Homo sapiens: one gene and its partners. The protein of the gene in region 1 purifies or fractionates together with the protein of each later gene. This does not show direct contact. Each region holds a gene or a part of one and is shown in the gene's direction. Other genes may lie near its edges.

Region 1 (4,893 bases):
GTTCCACTGCCCATACGAGGGCTGCAGCCAAGTCTACGTGGCCCTCAGCAGCTTCCAGGTGAGGCCGCCACCCGGAGCAGCCTGGGCCAGGCCCACAAGGCCCAGGCCATGGCACCACCAGGATGTCCTACCTCTAGTTTGCCCCTTGAAATTTGACGAGGTGTCCCTGAAGGCAAAGACAGGGACTTGTCACACCCCAGGACCTGGCATGGGAGGATGCAACAACAGGCCTTTGTGCCATGCCATGCATTGATTGAGCATGTATTAAGCACTTAGTGCAAGCCAGGCCTGCAAGCTGGAGCCAGGGTTGTTCTAGTAAGTTAAAGAGTGAAGGAACAAAGGAATGAATCAATTGGGGCTGCCTGTTCCAGGCCCACAGAGGCTGATAGCCCTCAAATCCAGTCCCAGTCCTGCCACTGGCCACCTGTGAGACCTTGGCCAAACCACAGAGCCTTGAACCTCAGTTTCCCCATCGATTAATTGGGCTAACAGCTGGGCCCTTCACAGAGTTGACAGATACCCCAGTCCAGAGCCTGGCATATAGTAGGTGTTCAATAAAGCTGCCCTTGGCCAGGTGCGGTGGCTCACACCTGTAATCCCAGCACTTTGGGAGGCCGAGGTGGGCGGATCACGAGGTCAGGAGATCGAGACCATCCTGGTTAACACGGTGAAACCCTGTCTGTACTAAAAAATACAGAAAAAAATAATAGCAGCCGGGCGTGGTGGCGGGCGCCTGTACTCCCAGCTACTCAGGAGGCTGTGGCAGGAGAATGGTGTGAACCCGGGGGGGTGGAGCTTGCAGTGAGCTGAGAGAACACCACTGCACTCCAGCCTGGGCGACAGAGCAAGACTCCATCTCAAAAAATAAAAAAAATAAAGCTACCCTTTGACCCCAGTTGTGCCCCTGGGAATCTCTGAGCTGGGCAAGGGTACCCCTCTTCCCTCCTCCTGGGGAGGCCAGCCCCAGCCTGCCTTCCAGCTGCCCTCATCTCTCCCCACCTCCCAGAGCCCCTTCTGTGGGCCTATGGGACCCACTTCTGCCTGTCTCGTCTCCAGAACCACGTCAATCTTGTGCATCGGAAAGGAAAGACCAAAGTGTGCCCTCATCCTGGCTGTGGCAAGAAGTTCTATTTATCCAACCACCTGCGGCGGCACATGATCATCCATTCAGGTCAGGCCCTGGGCCAGCTGGCAGCATGAGCGGGGGACACAGGGACATGGGCCTGGGAGCCTGGGCCAGAGCTGGCGGGTCAAAGCCCAGTGCTGGGTCTCCGGGCACAGGACTACACCCCTAGGAGCCTCCTCCCTGTCCTCAGTAAGCTGTAGCTATGTGAGCCACAGCGACAGGAACTATTACCAATCAATCACAGGAATTGGGTGGGGCTGGCCATCTTCCCTCCTATCCCCGCGACCCCATGCCCCATGATCCCAAGAGCAGGTCTCATGCGAGACTTAGGGAGCAGCTGACACCGCCACTGCTCTTCCAGATTGGAACCTATAGCAGCACCTGGGGCCACAGGCTAGACCAGTGCCCACCCAAGCAGCAGCAGGAAGGAGAGCTGGGCAAAGAGGAGCAGCTGGCTTGGGACTGGGCTTCTGTTTCCACTTGTGGCAGAGATGCAGGTCTTCTGCATGGGCTGGGGACATAGTGGAGAGCCATGGTGCCTGTGTCCAGCGATAGGGCATGCCCTGAGGGCCAGAGCTTCTGATATCACAGGAGGTCAGAAGTTTGGGGGTTTTTTTTGTTTTTTTTGGTTTTTTTTAATGTGTGTGTGGTTATTTTTTGCAACAGAGTCTCACTCTGTTGCCCGGGCTGGAATCCGATCTTGGCTCACTGCAGCCTCTGCCTCCCGGGTTCAAGCAATTCTTCTGCCCCAGCCTCCCAAGTATCTGGGATTACAGGCGCTCACCACCATGCCAGCTAATTTTTTTTTTTTAGTAGGGACAGGGTTTCGCCATGTTAGCCAGGCTTGTCTCCAACTCCTGATCTCAGGCGATCTGCCCACCTTGGCCTCCCTAAGTGCTGGGATTATAGGTGTGAGCCACCGTGCTGGGCAGAAGTTTTTTTTGTTTTTGTTTTTGTTTTCATTTTGCGAAATCACCCAAAGTTCAAATATCAGGGACAAGGCCGGGCGTGGTGGTAATCCCAGCCCTTTGGGAGGCTGAGGTGGGCAGATCACCTGAGGTCAGGAGTTCGAGACCAGCCTGACCAACATAGAGAAACCCCGTCTCTACTAAAAATACAAAATTAGCTGGGCATGGTTGGTGGCACATGCCTGTAATCCCAGCTACTCAGGAGGCTGAGGCAGAAGAATCGCTTGAACCCGCGAGACCAAGGTTGTGGTTGCGGTAAGCCGAGATCGGGCCATTGCACTCCAGCCTGGGCAACAAGAGCGAAACTCCGTCGCAAAATATATATATACACACACACAAGACAAATTCAGACCCATGTTGGCTTGGTAGTGTGCACCCTATGCCTCTCAGGGACCCAAGTTCGATCTCAGTTCTGCTTGATGGCGTCTGTGGGCAAATGCACGGGAAGGACGTAGGGTTTGGTCGGCCTGCACCTGCAGTCCTGGGAGATCCAAGGAGACAGCCTGATGCTCCTTCTAGCATCAGAGTCTGCAGCACATCAGAGACACCCCATAGCCCACCGTCCTCAGCCTCGGTCCCCACCGCCCCCAGGTGTCCGTGAATTCACCTGCGAGACCTGCGGCAAGTCCTTCAAGAGGAAGAACCACCTGGAGGTACATCGGCGCACCCACACCGGCGAGACCCCCCTGCAGTGAGTGACAGGCCGCCCCGTGCCGCTAGAGGATTGGGTGGGAGGGGATCCCAGCAGGTCCCAGGGGCGGCTTCGCCCCAACGCAGTGTCTGGGCCCGGTTCCACCTGCGCTCGGCCTTGTAGGGCCCCGCCCCGCCCCGCCCACTCTGACCCCGCCCCGTCCCGCCACGGGCTCCCGGCAGGTGCGAGATCTGTGGCTACCAGTGCCGGCAGCGCGCGTCGCTCAACTGGCACATGAAGAAGCACACTGCGGAGGTGCAGTACAACTTCACGTGCGATCGCTGCGGGAAGCGCTTCGAGAAGCTGGACAGCGTCAAGTTCCACACGCTCAAAAGCCACCCGGATCACAAGCCCACCTGACCCACCTGACCACTGACCGCCCCTATTTATTCGTCCGCTCGGACACCACGCCCGGGCTTGCCGGGGCCTGGACAGCTGCGAGGGCCGCCCGGACCGCGGGCCGGAAGGAGGCGCCCCCGCCCCGCCCCAGAGCTGGGCCCCCTGGGCAGGTTCCCCACCCCGCCCCACCGCATCCTTCTCGGAGCTGGTGCCTGGGGCTGCATTGCTGGAACTGTGTCAAGAGAGCAGAGTGAGATTAAAGAGCGAGAAAGGAGATGCCCTTCCCCTAGGCCTGAATGATTTGGGGTGCCAGGCCCCTCTCTGTCTCCAGCCTACTTGATCCCTTCCTAAGCGAGGCAGGGAACGAGGGATGCCCCTGGGCCCAGCAGCCTCGCACAGCCCCTGCTCCCACAGGATGGGGTGAGGCTTGGGGGTCTGGGGTCTCTGGGCATCTCCCGGAACTCAGGACCCTAATTTCCACTTCCTCCTGTTTTATGGGGCACCCATCTCCCACCCTCAGTGAGCTCCGGGATGAGATGGGGAGGTGTTCAGTAAACCCCTAAAATGAGAAACATTTGCAGCTAGCGACAAGCGCCATGCAAAAGAGAGAGTGATGCGTTGTTTTCCGGGGATGCTGTTTAGGTCGGTGGTCAGGGAGGGCCTCTGAGGAGGTGGCATTTGCGCATAGACCAGAATGACAAAGATCTATCCCAGAAGAAAGCTGGGGGAGGAAATTCTCAGGCCAGAGGAACAACCAGTGCCAAAACCCCGAGGTAGAACTAGCTCGGCGTGTTCCTAAAACAGGAAGCCGCGGGGGGAAGGGGAGTTGGCGGCGGCTGCCCTGGCCCCATTTCCCGGAGGAGGATGCTGAGGCCGCCGCCTCCTGCGGGCCGCTAGAGAGAGGGGCGGGGAGCGAGGCGCGGCCGCTAGGTGGCGTGCGAGGCGCGTAGGCCCTGGTGGCCGCAGCCACGTGACCCTGGGGACCGCAGCCGCGAGCTCAGGCACGTGCCCGGGGGAGCCCTGTGGCGCCACGCGCAGATTGGCCCCGCCGGTTCCTCACCAGTTCGGGGGATGAGGCGGGGCCCCAGCTATGCCTCAGTTCCTGCTGCGGACCGGGGGGCTACCCCAGCCGGGGACAGAAGAATCGGCAAGGATGAGCGAGTCCGGCCGCTGGGGCCGCCCCCGCGAGCTCCCTCCCCCCGCGAGGCAGGTCCCCTCCACTCTCCCCGCACTGCCGGAGCCGGCAGGTTTCCATGGGAACCGCAGCGGGGTCCGCGCGCCCAGGAGCAGCCCCCCTCCTAGCTCAGTTTCCGATGACGGAAACCGGGAGGAACACGGGGTGGGGAACAGACCATCGCTTGGGGCCCCTAGCGCCCGCAGCCAGGTCGCCCCGGCGAGCCCAAGAGGGGCCACCCGGGGATCTGCACCGCCACCGCCCCTATTGCGCGGGCCACTGCGATTGGCCTGCCCTTTCCAGGCGTGGCAGCATCCCCTGGTGCGCGCACTCCCATTGGCTCGATCTCTAGGGCATCTTCCAGTAACTGGTTATCTCAAGGGCCGCCCCTGATTGGGCAAATTAGGCTCTCCTCGCTGGTGGCGCTCTCTGACAGTCTGGAGCCTAAAGGGCGTGCAGGAACGAGGATTGGGTGGGGACTGCCGCTCTCCAGTTAGGGGGTCTGGGCTACCTCGCCGGCAGCGCCCTCGACCGGACTGTCGGATTGCTGTCTGTGGTGCTGAAGCCTCACGCCCTGGCGACCCCGCCCCAGTGT
Region 2 (4,468 bases), on another chromosome or scaffold:
TTTCAATAGCGTTAGACTTTGTTGTGATGCACAGTTTAGTTGCAATCAGTTGAATCCTTTTGAAGTTTGCTTTTAAGTAATGTTAGGAATGGGCCAGAGCAGTCTTTATTCTGTTATTAATTTAGTTCCAATACTAAGGTATGGCCCTTCTGTGGGCCAGTACCATATATATTACAGGTTCTATCTGTTCTGGCTGAAGATAACACGAAATATTCCCAGCCATGAGTGAGCTCTAGGAATTGTTTGGTCTACTTGTTTTCCTTTGGATCTTTCCCTAGCCTTGGGTTATTTATCTTTTTTCTCACTCATGTTCAGGTCAGCACTTAGCCAAAAACTTGTGGGAACCCCTCTGTGTTTCCTTTGGAGCTCTCTTTATGTGCAGCTCCTTTCTGTCTAAGATAGTACATTGCCATGCACAGTAGCCACTTCGGTCTCTGAACTCCAGTGTCTTTCTGCACAACTTAATGAGACCACTGGACTCTGTTTTTCTTTGTCCTCTGAAAACTGCCTCCAGGCAGTAAGCTGGAGAAGTATTTGTTTTGTTTTCTGATTTTGAAAGTTTATTAAAACAATTTCTGAAAGTATATTTGAGGTATAAACCAAAGTTGGTACTCCAGGAGCCTTTGTTGATAAGGGATTTTGAATGCTCTGAAAATGAGTACTTGTTTTTGGCTAACTTTATTTTGGTTGAGTCTTGTGTAGGTTTCAGACATGATAGAGCTATTTGCATTTGTTGAATATATGATAAAATATTTTGGCTTATATGTTTATGAAGATGTTATTTAATGGAGCCTCTTGGTTTTGAAAGGTCAGGTTACCTTTCAAGAACTTATGTTTTCTTTTATAGGGCTCAAAATCTCCTTCGCCAAGACCAAACATGCCTGTTCGATACTTCATAATGAAGAGTAGCAATTTGAGAAACCTTGAAATTTCTCAACAGAAGGGTATCTGGTCTACAACTCCTAGTAATGAACGGAAGCTAAATCGAGCCTTTTGGGAAAGCAGCATAGTTTACTTGGTATTTTCTGTTCAAGGATCTGGACATTTCCAGGTGAGCCACCCTGAATCAGTAAAATGGGGTTGTTCTGGCTATAGGTTAAATCATAGAGATTTTTAGAAAAACAACTGGCTTTTCATTGCATCAGAATGCAAGAATGCCTTTTGCTTGACTGAGAATAAGGGATATATTGCATCTCTTTAGAGGATGATAGAACTGGAATCCTCTTTGTTTTTGCCTTGTCTTACCAGAGTCTTTCCAGGTAAACTATGTTTCCTTCTGAAGACAACTTTAGATTTACTAATTCTCAAGTGGATTCAAAGTAATGAGAAGCTTGACCTTTTGGTAAAATATTTATTTAAATAGGCCAAGGAAGTTAGTATTGACAATCAGTAAACTAAGTATGTTTCTTAACCCATCACCCATCTTGACTTAATGTATACCTGAATTTATAAAATAATACATTTATTATTTGATGTTTATTATAATTTTTGGAAATGAAAGCTTAGAGGTTAGCTTGTATCCATTTATCATGGAATAAAAATATGGACTTTGCTATTTTATTTAGAAATCATTATTGATATTTGAAATTGTTAGGAGGCTAGAACTGTTTTTTTCTAAAATTTGCTAAGAGAGCTTTTAATGAAAAATTTAGTAGCTTATTTTTTGTTTTTGTTAGGTATCTGTTATTTCAATATTATATCTTAATCTTAAAATTTTAAAAACTCAGCCTTCTCAGATAAATTAAATTTAGACATGCTAATCTCCTCCTCACCTCTATTCCTTCCTCCCATTTTACCTACAGGGATTTTCTAGGATGTCTTCTGAGATTGGAAGGGAAAAGAGTCAGGACTGGGGCTCTGCTGGACTAGGAGGAGTATTTAAGGTGGAGTGGATACGAAAAGAAAGCCTTCCCTTTCAATTTGCACACCATTTACTCAATCCATGGAATGACAACAAGAAAGTGCAGATAAGCAGGGATGGGCAGGTATACAATGGCATTTTTTTTTTTATTTACTTTTGTTTCTGTTTGTTTTCTGTTATCCAGTGCTTTAATTGAGGAGAAAATGTAAGAGTACAAATTTTATATTCCATATGCACATGGGAAACAGGGGTTCAGGTTTGTAAAAAGATAGTAAAAACCTACTTGTAAATGTGTCTGATTGCTCCTTGCAGTCAGAGTCTCAAGATGACAATAGTATTTAACTTCTCTTTGGCTTTAATTATGTAAAGTAAATAACCTTTTTATATTCTAGTGGCTTGTTTATTTCTATTGTGTTTTGCTTTGTCTTCATGATGCTATTTACATGCATTTTAAGCTAGTTAAGATGATGGAAATTAATGTATATTGACCAAATACTATGCTAGCTGCTTTAGAAGATATAATTTATTTCTTATGATTAAATTATTAGTCCAATTTTATATAGGAGAAAATAGACTCAAAGATTAGTTTTGCCTAAGGTCACACAGCTAATAATTTATCTGAACCAGTATGACTCGTTTCAAATCACCATGTAAAAAGTGTTTGGGTTCTTCTTAAGTGCTTATCATAGGTTATCATTCCACAGGAGTACTATGAAGTGGGATTCTTTTCAATTGTGTGAGAATAATTTCATTTTTATTCTATAATAATGATTTTGAAGAAATATGTTAGCTAGAAATCTTAGAAGAAAAAATATTTTAATAATTTTCAAGATAAGAAGATATAGTTGCTTAAGAGAGTTCCTTGGAAAAAAACCCAACATCGAATATGCTAGGTTTCACAGTAAACCTTTGGAAGTTCCAGCTGAGTGCTTTTGCTGAATCTCTATGAAAAACAAAATCCATTATTTTTAGGTAGAAACAGTTCCAGGACTCCATGGGAATCTGTTGCCATTTTGTCACAAAAGTTGAGAGATTTTGCAGATTAACTGTAATCTTAAATCTGGAAGTCAACTCCATAAACCTTAAAGCAAAGAATTAGAACAATTCATACCAGATGATTTTAGCATACGCTGGTAGGAAAATGAAATTTAAAGTGATTTTCTTACATTTTTATCAGTGTAGGTTTTGGTCATTAAAAATTTTCACTCCAGTTCTTTTTATGTTTATTTTGACTTCTGATTTATCTAGGAACTAGAACCTCTGGTTGGTGAACAGTTGCTCCAGTTATGGGAACGTCTTCCCTTGGGAGAAAAAAACACAACTGATTGACACTCAGGTTATACCATCTTGACTTTGAGTATTGGCAGTATTTGTGATCATTAGGAACCTTTCAGATTATTTATCTTTTTTTTTCCCCTTTCTTCTAGAACTCTTAGCTGTGGAAGAACATCATGCCTATTTATAACCACTGAATGCACTGACTTTCAAAAACTGAGGTGGGGTGTGTGTTACGAATGGGCTTTTTAACACTTTTAGAGTGTTGCTTTAGAACTACCATCTTCATATACAGGAGAAAGGAAGCATTTAAATTTTTATAGTGATTATAGAGAATGATTATATGATGTTTGTAATGAATAAAATAGTAGTTTCATTATTTGGCACAATAGCAGTTTATTTTAAACAAACAATTTGAAGTTAAACATTTCATTTTTAAAAACACTGAATTACAGTTCTTATTGATGACTTTTTAATGCAGAGTAAGTTGTTTAAGAAAGGCCTGAATATATCAGAACATCTGAGCACCATTTTAGAAGAGTCAACTCTTAAGATTATCATTAGAAAACAAATACGTCAACACCTATGAAAAGAAGCGGGGAAAACAACAACAAGGACAACAACAAAAAACCAGTGAAATTCTACAAGTGTCCCTTTTAAAAATAGTGTGTGCTAACTAAGGGCTATTCATTCTGCCATTTTTAACTTGAGACACATTTAAGAATAAAGTTGGATGTTCTTTTTCTGTGATTATGAAATGCAATAAAATCTGAATAAAGGGCAAAGTTTCTTCCTGATCAGATTAGATTAAGTGCTTAGTTTTATTCCTAATTCTGCCCCTTTTAACCTGATGTGTACCTTACTCTTTCCTCCCTCTCTTCCTCCCTTCCTCCTCTCCCCGCTCCTTTCCTGCATTTCTCCCTCCCTCCTTCCCTCGTCACATCTCTTATATGAGCACAGTAATTATGACCTTTTTGTTTTGGCTACAACTTGATTGAAACAAGTTCAAAATTTAAACAAGTTCATACAAGTTTTTAAAAATTCTCAACTGGTAGCTTGCTTGCTGTGCGTCTTCCAAACTAAAGCCTGCAAGCGCCACAATTCTAAGTGCCGCCTTCCATTTTTTTTCAGTATGTTTTCACTGGCTTATGTTTTCAGATATGATTTTCCTTTTTCGCATATATGGTTTAATAAATGGGGGATAATTTTTTTTTTGTAAATCCGTGCTTGTGCCAAGTCTCATATTTCTTTGCCATCTCAGAATTATCTTTTTACCACCACTGTTTATAAAATTTCCTTAGAGACTTTTTGAAGGGAAAATAGAGCAACAGG
Region 3 (4,468 bases), 9.8 Mb from region 1:
CTGCAAATGCTGTTAATTCATTTTTTATGGCTGTGTAGTATTCCATTGTATATATATACCACAGTTTCTTTATCCATTCATTGATTGATGAGGATTTGGGTTGGTTCCATGATTTTGCTATTGTGAAATGTGCCACTATGAACATGCGTGTGCAAGTATATTTTTCGAATAATGACTTCTTTTCCTCTGGGTAGATACCCAATTGTGGGATTGCTGGATCAAATGGTAATCCTACTTTTAGTTCTTTAAGGAATCTCCACAGTGTTTTCCATAGTGGCTTTTCTAGTTTACATTCCCACCAGCAATGTAGAAGTGTTCCCTGTTCACCACGTCCATGCCAACATCTACTGTTTCTTGATTTTTTGATCATGGCCATTCTTGCAGGAGTAAGGTGGTATCGCATTGTGGTTTTGATTTGCATTTCCCTGATCATTAGTGATGTTGAGGATTTTTTCATATGTTTGTTGGCCATTTGTATACCTTCTTTTGAGAATTGTTTATTCATATCCTTAGTCCACTTTTTGATGGGATTGTTTGTTTTGTACTGATTTGTTTGGGTTTGTTGTAGACTCTAGATATTAGTCCTTTGTCAGACGTATAGATTGTGAAGATTTTTTCTCACTCTATGTGTTGTCTGTTTACTCTGCTGACTGTTCTTTTTGCCGTGTAAAAACTATTTAATTTAATTAGGTCCCTGATATTTATCTTTGTTTTTATTGCATTTGCTTTTGAGTTCTTGGTCATGAAATCCTTGCCTAATCTAATGTCTAGAAGGGTTTTTCCAATGTTATGTTTTATAATTTTTATAGTTTCCGATCTTAGGTTTAAGTCCTTAATCCATCTTGAGTTGATTTTTGTATAAGATGAGAGATGAGGATCCAGTTTCATTCTCCTACATATGGCTAGCCAATTATCCCAGTACCATTTGTAGAAAAGGGTGTCCTTTCCCCACTTTATGTTTTTGTTTGCTTTGCTGAAGATCAGTTGGCTGTAAGTATTTGGGTTTATTTCTGGGTTCTCTATTCTGTTCCATTGGTCTATGTGCCTATTTTTAAACCAGTAACATGCTGTTTTGGTGACTATGGCCTTATAGTGTAGTTTGAAATCAGGTAATGTTATGCCTCCAGATTTGTTCTTTTTGCTTAGCCTTGTTTTGGCTACGCAGGCTCTTTTTTGTTCCACATGAATTTTAGAATTTTTTTTAATTCTGTGAAGAATTATGGTGGTATTTTGATAAGGATTGCACTGAATTTGTAGATTGCTTTTGGCAGTATGGTCATTTTCACAATATTGATTCTACTTATCCATGAGCGTGGGATTTGTTTCCATTTGTTTGTGCCATCTATGATTTCTTTCATCAGTGTCAGGTGTATTTTTTATGGCTTGGTAATTTCCAATAAAATTTCAAGGCTGTTTAAGAATGCTACCAAGAAAAAGAATAGGGGAAATGTCTTTCCCATTTTGGCTGTAGAAAATGAGTACATTTTCACAAGAAAATGTGGTAGATAATTGCTGAGTTACATAGATTCATGAAAGCATCAGCTCCTCTTTTTGCAGGGTAAATTTGTGACAGTGAATATCTCTGTTCAAATCCTGTTATCTTGATTTCCTAGTTTTAAGCTAAATTTTATTTGAAACTTGGTACCTCCTAGACATGTTTCCATATGACTAATTGTTTACTATATGACTTTTAATGGAAATAATAAAATAATGCATTTATTGTTTGAAAGGAATGGACACTTTTGCTTTTCTTATTGAGATATGAAATATAAGCACCCTAAAATTTTCTTCTCTTATGTCAACACTGTGTTTGAGAAACTGCTGGATTTTTTTTTTATTTTTTGAAATGGAATTTCTCTCTTATTGCCCAGGCTGGAGTGCAATGTCATGATCTCGGCTTACTGCAGCTTCCGCCTCCTGGGTTCAAACTATTCTCCTGCCTCAGTCTCTTGAGTAGCTGGGATTACAGGCATGCACCACCACACCTGGTTAATTTTGTATTTTTAGTAGAGACGGGGTTTCTGCATGTTGGTCAGGCTGGTCTCAAACTCCTGACCTCAGGTGATCTGCCCGCCTCGGCCTCCCAAAGTGCTGGGATTACAGGCGTAAGCCACTGCGCCCAGCCAAGAAACGCTGGATTTTTTAAACACTTAAGTTTATTTTTTTTTGAGACGGAGTCTTGCTCTGTAGCCAGGCTGGAGTGCAGTGGCGCGATCTCAGCTCACTGCAAGGTCCACCTCCCGGGTTCACACCATTCTCCTGCCTCAGCCTACCCAGTAGCAGGGACTACAAGTGCCCGCCACCACGCCCGACTAATTTTTTTTTTTGTATTTTTAGTAGAGACAACGTTTCACCATGTTAGCCAGGATGGTCTTGATCTCCTGACCTTGTGATCCACCCGCCTCAGCCTCCCAAAGTGTTGGGATTACAGGCGTGAGCCACTGCGCCCGGCTAAACACTTAAGTTTCAAAGACCAAGTGAATAACTCTTGACATGGAAATTAAAGCTTTAGCCCACTGGCTCAGAGCTAAGGCTAATATTGAGCCTGCAAAAAAATTTTATTAAAGGCCCAGTTAGTTTTTTCTGGGGAGTCTCCTCTGTAGATATCCCAGCCTGCTCACCCCAGCCATAGAAGTCTTTATCCTGGGAGAAGCTACAGAGCCCTGGAAAGCTGGGGACCCACAGGTGGATGCAGTTGATGTTAAAATGAAAGGGGATTGGGAGGGTCTTACTGAAGATGAAGTTGTTCTTGTTTTGAGGCAGTTTATAGACTTTGAAAATAAAACAAGGTTGAATTTACATAAAAATTTTGACTTCCAAAGAAATATTGCAACAGAAGTACCAACTACAAGGTCTTTAAGAATTGCAAAGTTCAGGCAGACAAAGGCTTCCTTTCCTAAGGAGGAACAAACAAGATTAGAAAGGAGGTGGAAGGGGAATGGCAAATGCAGGGTGAAAAAATCAGATTTTAGATCAGAGAATGTTTCACACTGAAGTCAGCCTGTTCTTTGGAGTTACATAAAATGGGTTTGTAAAGTTCAGAAGCCTTGGGGAAAAAGACAAACTTAAGTAAAGTTTCCTTAAGAAGTATTTTATTTTCACCACTGAAGTCAAATTCAACTGATTTTTCAATAAGAAAAAAAATGTGCAGAGTCGGTGTCTGCTATGTGATAGATAAGAAAAGAGAGCACCATCTAAGTCATAATGGGAAGGGTGTTTCTTTCGATAAACTGTTCCTGGAGAACACAAACAATGAAGAATTTTATTAATCACAGTTATTTATCTGGATTGTCTATGTGTGTCATCTTTCCCCACCTTTCTTTGTTCTATACATGTCTGCCATTTGACTTTTCCTGGGTTGTATCTTTTATAATAAACTGGTAAATATAACTACAGTATTTGCTGAGTTCTATGAGTAGCTTTATCAAATTATTGAACTTGAAAAAGGTTATGGGAGTCCTCAATTTTTAAACAGTAGCTCAGAAATGTAAATGGGCCCATGGAGTTTGTGCCTGGCATCTGCCGTAAGGACAGTGTGGGACTGAGTCAGGGCCTGTGCTGACACTGGGTGGTGTCAGAAATAAAATGTTAGACAATGAGTTAGTGTTAGAGAATTGCTTGGTTTTCAGTAAACTGCAGATTTGGTGCCAGAAAAAAGATACGGGGGCCTGACCTGGAATAAAACTCTGGATGTCTGGGAATGGGACGCTCTGCTCTCCTGTACACAGGCTGTCACACTGCCCATTGTCCTGTGATTTCAGTTCTCCCAGGGTGAGAGAGGACTGAAAAATTAGAGAATAGGAGCTCTGGCCGGGTGCCGTGGCTCACGCCTGTAATCCTAGCACTTTGGGAGGCCGAGGCGGGTGGATTGCCTGAGCTCAGGAGTTCAAGACCAGCCTGGGCAACGTGGCAAAACCCCGTCCCTACTACAGATAGAAAAAATAAGCTGGGCATGGTGGTGCGTTCTTGTAATCTCAGCTATTCAGGAGGCTGAGGAAGGAGAATCACTTGAACCCGGGAGGCAGAGGTTGCAATGAGCCAAGATTGCGCCACTGCACTCCAGCCTGGGTGACAGAACTAGACTCTGTCTCAAAAGAAAAAAAAAAGGAAAGAAAGAAAAAAAAAGAATATGAGCTCTGATGACAGACCCCCTTTTCCCACAGCTGCCACCACAGGATTCCCAGCCACTCACAAACATACCCATTAGACATTGACGTGTCCACACTTATTCCCAGGACTAGGCACCACCCTCAGGAATTTTACCACAGCATTTTTGATCCTGGTGTTTCTTGCTACAAACTCACAAACATGTCTACAAGTCTCCTGGCATATCCGCACCCCCAGACACTGAATCTGCACCAGCAACCTGTTTTCTCCACCAACCTAGGGTTCTGGACCACCTGTTCATAATCTCACCTGCCTGTATGAACAGAGAAATAAATTAGAGTACAGCCCCACCCAGGCACAA
Region 4 (4,468 bases), on another chromosome or scaffold:
GCCAGAAGGAGGTAGAGGGTGGGCTAGAGATGGGAACTCTAGGGAGGAGGCACATATACAAGTTCAGGCAGGCAGGAAGAGTACCTGGGGCTCTGCCAGAGGGAATGGAGAGGAAGGAGATGAACTGATCAAATATGGAGGCAGTCAAATAGGACATGGGAGGGGATTTAATGTGGGGAGACAGAGACAACAAAGAGTTAGAGGACTGAAGCCTTCCTTTCCCTCACTTTGGTCCTCAAAGCCCAGTCCCTAGAGTACGCAGCTCAAGGGCATGGAGGTTGGTGTGATGTTGAAGGCTGATGAAGATGAGAGTTTCTAATGAAGCAAGGCCCTAGGGATGGCAACTTCAGGGACACTGAGCTCTAATCACTAACCAGGCACTTGTCCAGTCCTGGTGGGTAGGATAAGAGGGTATGGAAGTACATTTACCTCCCTGCAGGATCTTGGAAGGAAAATGATTGGGACCAGAGTAATCAGTGGAGAAAAAGAACTAGACAAACTGTAATCAGGGAGTCTTGCTGCTACAGGAGGTCATAGGAGGAAGAGTCAAAGCATGTGGTGTTGGTTGGAAGTAGTTAAGGAGGGCTTCCTGCCCAATATGGTCTAAGGATGGAGAAACTTTGTGGGTAGAGAAACAGGAAGGGGAGGTGGCCTGAGGGCAGTTGGTGCCAGATTTGATGTTGAAGCCCTTGCCAAAGCCCTTGCTTACTTTTCCCTTCCCCCACAGGAAAGCGTCCCAAAAAGGGCCTGGCCACAGCAAAGCAGAGACTCGGCCGTATCCTGAAAATCCACAGAAATGGCAAACTACTTCTGTGAGCCCTCCTGTGTCCCACCCCTCACCCCTTTACCCCCATTGCCTTCTCCATTGTCAACTCTTGGGGCACTCCTGGATCCTATCTGCCCTGGACAAGGTGCTGAGGTGCATTGTCCTGCTTTCTTGGGACTTACCAAAGGCACGGACCCCTCCACCGACTCCTTCTAGTTCCCTTCCCCACTTTCACTAGAGCATCCTGCCTGCCTTCTCCACTGAGGAGCAGGTAAATGGGAGAGGTTTCCAGCTGACTAGAACCCTCTTTTCTACTCGTCCAAACCACTCCCGTCACCTGCCTTGTCTGTTCTTTATTCTTCATCCCCCGCTAGAGCTGGAAGGCAGGATGAGGAGAGGTATGAAGGAGCCTGAGCCATGAAGTGGGAAGCCCAGTGCTTGACACTTTCTGCAACTCTAGCCCTATATCCAGAAGCCTGCCCACCTCCACCCATTCTGTTTGCCCCATTTCCCCAGTCCAGTGGACATGCCCCACCTCCAGACTTGCTCATGGGAGAAGGCTGTGGTCTCTGCCCCCTCTTGCCAAATGCTTCATGGAAATGAAGAGGAAGGCCTAGAGCCTCCTTCCTGCCCCACTGTGGGCCATTTCCAGAAGTGGCCTAGAAATGCCAACTTCACTTACCTTTCAAAAGAAAGGTGATTCCTATCACTTGTCAAGGTAGGGAGAGGTCAGATGCCCAAGCCTTTGACCACGGTTTTGTAGCCTGTTGGAGGAAGCTACTTTTAGCTGGCTACACATGAGGCCACTTGTTTTAGGGTGAGCTCCAGGGATTTGCCTGGATTTTGAAATCATGTAGAACATTATCCACGTGGCTGTGGCTGTGGCTGTGGCTGGGCCCTGGCAGGTGGAAAACCATCTCCCAGAAACCTGAAAGCACCTGCCAATGACGCAGATAACCCTGGCCCTACAGCCTGCTTGCTCCGCCTATACCACAGAGCACAGCCTGGACATTATGGAGGGTGTGGCGGGACGGCCCACACCTGGGTCCTCCATCGGGAACTTTTCATGCTTCTTTCTCCACCTGAGGTCTTGGTCTGAAGAAGACCTCAGGACTCACATCTTCACTCCTGGGCCTTTGCACTTCCAGACGACAGGTCATCGTTCAAGCAGAATGCAGACAGGCCATTCACGAGCCCAAGTTGAAGAGAAGAGACGCCCATCCGTGAAGGAGCAGACCATCCATCCGATCCTCCCCTTCCCCTGTCCTTCCTTCGTGGATTGTCTCCATTGTCCAGACAGTGCCCCCACCTCCCACCGCCTTGCCTCACTGGCAATCTGGACTCGATGGAGAACATCCCCCCACCTCCATTTGGCACTACCCAAGTGGAGTGTACCCTTGCCCTTTCCACCTGTACCACCCACTCCAACCTCACCCCAGCTTGCCCAATGCTTCTGGGGAATTTAATAGCTACCATGCAGGCCACAGGGAATTTGTGAGGCTTCTTTTGTCATCTTTGTATCTCCAGTTTGTCTTTCTTTTCTCCATAGCCCTGCCTCTACTTTCCTTCCTTGGAATCAGGGGTTCCTTTAGCCCATTTGCTTTCTCTACCTTGGGGACCCCAGGGGCCAAGCAGTTCTCCATCTAGTCACACCAAAGGCAAAAAGCCTGGCTACCTCCCCCCTAGCACGTGAGTCCCTACTCCCCTCCCCTCTGTTTCTGCCCAGCTTTGCTTATTTTGGGGATTTCAAGGCAGCAGAGGGTAGTGAGGGGAGAGCAGGAGAAGCCTCTGTCCTGTATAGGCAACTGCCTGACTATGCGGTGACTGCTGTAACCAAGATCAGGTCCCCAGCCCTTTTGTCCATTAACACCCCTTCTTGATCTTTCAAAGGCAGCTAATTGCTAGCAAATCCCCCCGATTCCGGCCTTTTCCCTCTATTTCTTTGTTAGAAGTTTTCTGTGGAGCTGAAACCCAGCCTCTGTTTGACTGGGTTTCATTTAGCTTAGTTGGGTTCTTAGAGCCCCCTGTTTGTTGTTTTGTGTTGTTTCCAATGAAAAGCAAGTTTACCCTCAGAGTTATGCTTTTCCAAAGAGGCTGATGTCTTTGTTTTTGTTTTTTTTAATGTTTCAGGTTCTAAGTGAAGTGAGTTGGGGAGGGGTTGGGAGTGTTAGTAATCAAGGTTTAGAACACCATGAGATAGTTACCCCTGATCTCCAGTCCCTAGCTGGGGGCTGGACAGGGGGAAGGGAGAGAGGATTTCTATTCACCTTTAATATATTTTTACAAAAAAAGCAAACAATTTAAAAACAAGCCCACCGCTTCTGTACATGTCTAAATATATTTTTAGAAGTGGGTAGGATTGTGAATTTCTGATGCAGGGCCTTTTTATAAATAGGTTAGGGTAGCATCATTCAGACTTCTCTGTTGTTTTTGTCCCTGTCTTTTTCTTATGTTGTGTTACTAATGTAATTTATATTTTTTTTAGATCCTCCCTTTCCTATAGAGATAAAAGTGATTTATCTTGGCAATTGCTTTGCTTGGCATTCTTTTTTTTTGTGATGAGGGTGGTGGTGTGGTGCAGGGTCTGGGAGTGCTGCCTTCTCCTTGTACTCTTTGTCTCTCCCTCAGCAAGTTGTCAGGCATTTCCCTGGTGCTCAGCCTTATGCTTGAAGTGGGAAGGGTATTCCCACCCTCAGGAGGGACACGCTTCACACACCTGAAGTAGATCATCAGAAGCAGACTGAGCAGAAAAGAAAGGGTGCAATAATTCAAAGGGGCCTAACAAGTTCAATGGGAGGGCTTTCCAGAGACTGCTTTTTCAAGTGTGTCCTCTTTCTGTGAATGTGGGATTTTTTTTTTCTTTCCCTCTCTCTTCCATGCACTTGTTGTGCAATCTGGACTTGATTACTGTGCTTAGGGCCAGTACATGGGTTAGAAGAATATAATTATCAGAGCTTGTTTTCACGATTATCGCACTTGTTTTCTTGTGCCAGGCACTGCTCTTAATACTTTATTGATTCATTTCATCCTCACCAACACCCTCATCCTGCCAGCGAAGAAACAAAGTAACCTTCCTGTATCATACATGAAAATTCTGGGACCAACCTGGTTCCAGAATGTGTATTCTTACCACTCTGTTCTACCACTTCTCACTGATAAACACTACCATTATATTAAGTGCCTTTTGGGTGCCAGGCATTGGGCTAGGGATTTTACTTAGGGATATCTCATTTAATCCTCACTGAAAAACCCCATGAGGATATTCGTCCTATTTAACAGTTTAAGGAGACTGAAGTTTGCCAGTGGTCTGCAGCAGGATCTGCCTGATTCCAAAACTTATGTTCTTTGCCTTCACCATATTAGAAAATCTTCTGAGGCTCAAGCACCCAACAGATCTTTATTAAGCCTCTGTTATGTGCAAGATGCAGAATTGAGAGTTATCTCCTAAGGAGAGCTCCCAGGGTGATCTTGGGAGCCTCAGTTTCAAATTCACCACCACCCTGACTCTGTGGGTGAGCCAGGGCAGGCTGCTTACTGTCTGTGGGTCATCTATTAAAGTATTTTGAACCCAGTCAAGATTTACTTCCTCCTGGAGATTCTGCTTCTGTGGGTCTGGAGTGAGGCTGTCTGGTTTTGGCACCTACTGGTTAAATGACCTCCTCCAGTTCTCACAGTCTGTCTCAGGAGTAGGTGGGGTTTTGA

What was found.
Region 2: the proteins of ZNF653 (region 1) and YTHDC2 purify together in Homo sapiens (affinity purification with mass spectrometry; one large-scale study listed by BioGRID and IntAct). This does not show direct contact.
Region 3: the proteins of ZNF653 (region 1) and ZNF708 purify together in Homo sapiens (affinity purification with mass spectrometry; one large-scale study listed by BioGRID and IntAct). This does not show direct contact.
Region 4: the proteins of ZNF653 (region 1) and PHF8 purify together in Homo sapiens (affinity purification with mass spectrometry; one large-scale study listed by BioGRID and IntAct). This does not show direct contact.

The regions. Positions count from the first base shown.
Region 1 is NC_000019.10:11,481,934-11,486,826, reverse strand, and holds the end of ZNF653 (zinc finger protein 653), read left to right. Parts: coding exon 1-58; intron 59-1,056; coding exon 1,057-1,171; intron 1,172-2,685; coding exon 2,686-2,785; intron 2,786-2,967; coding exon 2,968-3,145; 3' UTR 3,146-3,398; downstream 3,399-4,893. UniProt on the Homo sapiens protein: Transcriptional repressor. May repress NR5A1, PPARG, NR1H3, NR4A2, ESR1 and NR3C1 transcriptional activity.
Region 2 is NC_000005.10:113,590,194-113,594,661, forward strand, and holds part of YTHDC2 (3'-5' RNA helicase YTHDC2), read left to right. Parts: intron 1-847; coding exon 848-1,051; intron 1,052-1,802; coding exon 1,803-1,985; intron 1,986-3,109; coding exon 3,110-3,190; 3' UTR 3,191-3,197; exon of another isoform or gene 3,198-3,288; coding exon of another isoform or gene 3,289-3,297; 3' UTR 3,298-3,617; coding exon of another isoform or gene 3,618-3,725; 3' UTR 3,726-4,468. UniProt on the Homo sapiens protein: 3'-5' RNA helicase that plays a key role in the male and female germline by promoting transition from mitotic to meiotic divisions in stem cells.
Region 3 is NC_000019.10:21,321,943-21,326,410, reverse strand, and holds part of ZNF708 (zinc finger protein 708), read left to right. Parts: intron 1-4,468. UniProt on the Homo sapiens protein: May be involved in transcriptional regulation.
Region 4 is NC_000023.11:53,935,506-53,939,973, reverse strand, and holds the end of PHF8 (histone lysine demethylase PHF8), read left to right. Parts: intron 1-727; coding exon 728-816; 3' UTR 817-1,914; coding exon of another isoform or gene 1,915-1,993; 3' UTR 1,994-3,294; downstream 3,295-4,468. UniProt on the Homo sapiens protein: Histone lysine demethylase with selectivity for the di- and monomethyl states that plays a key role cell cycle progression, rDNA transcription and brain development.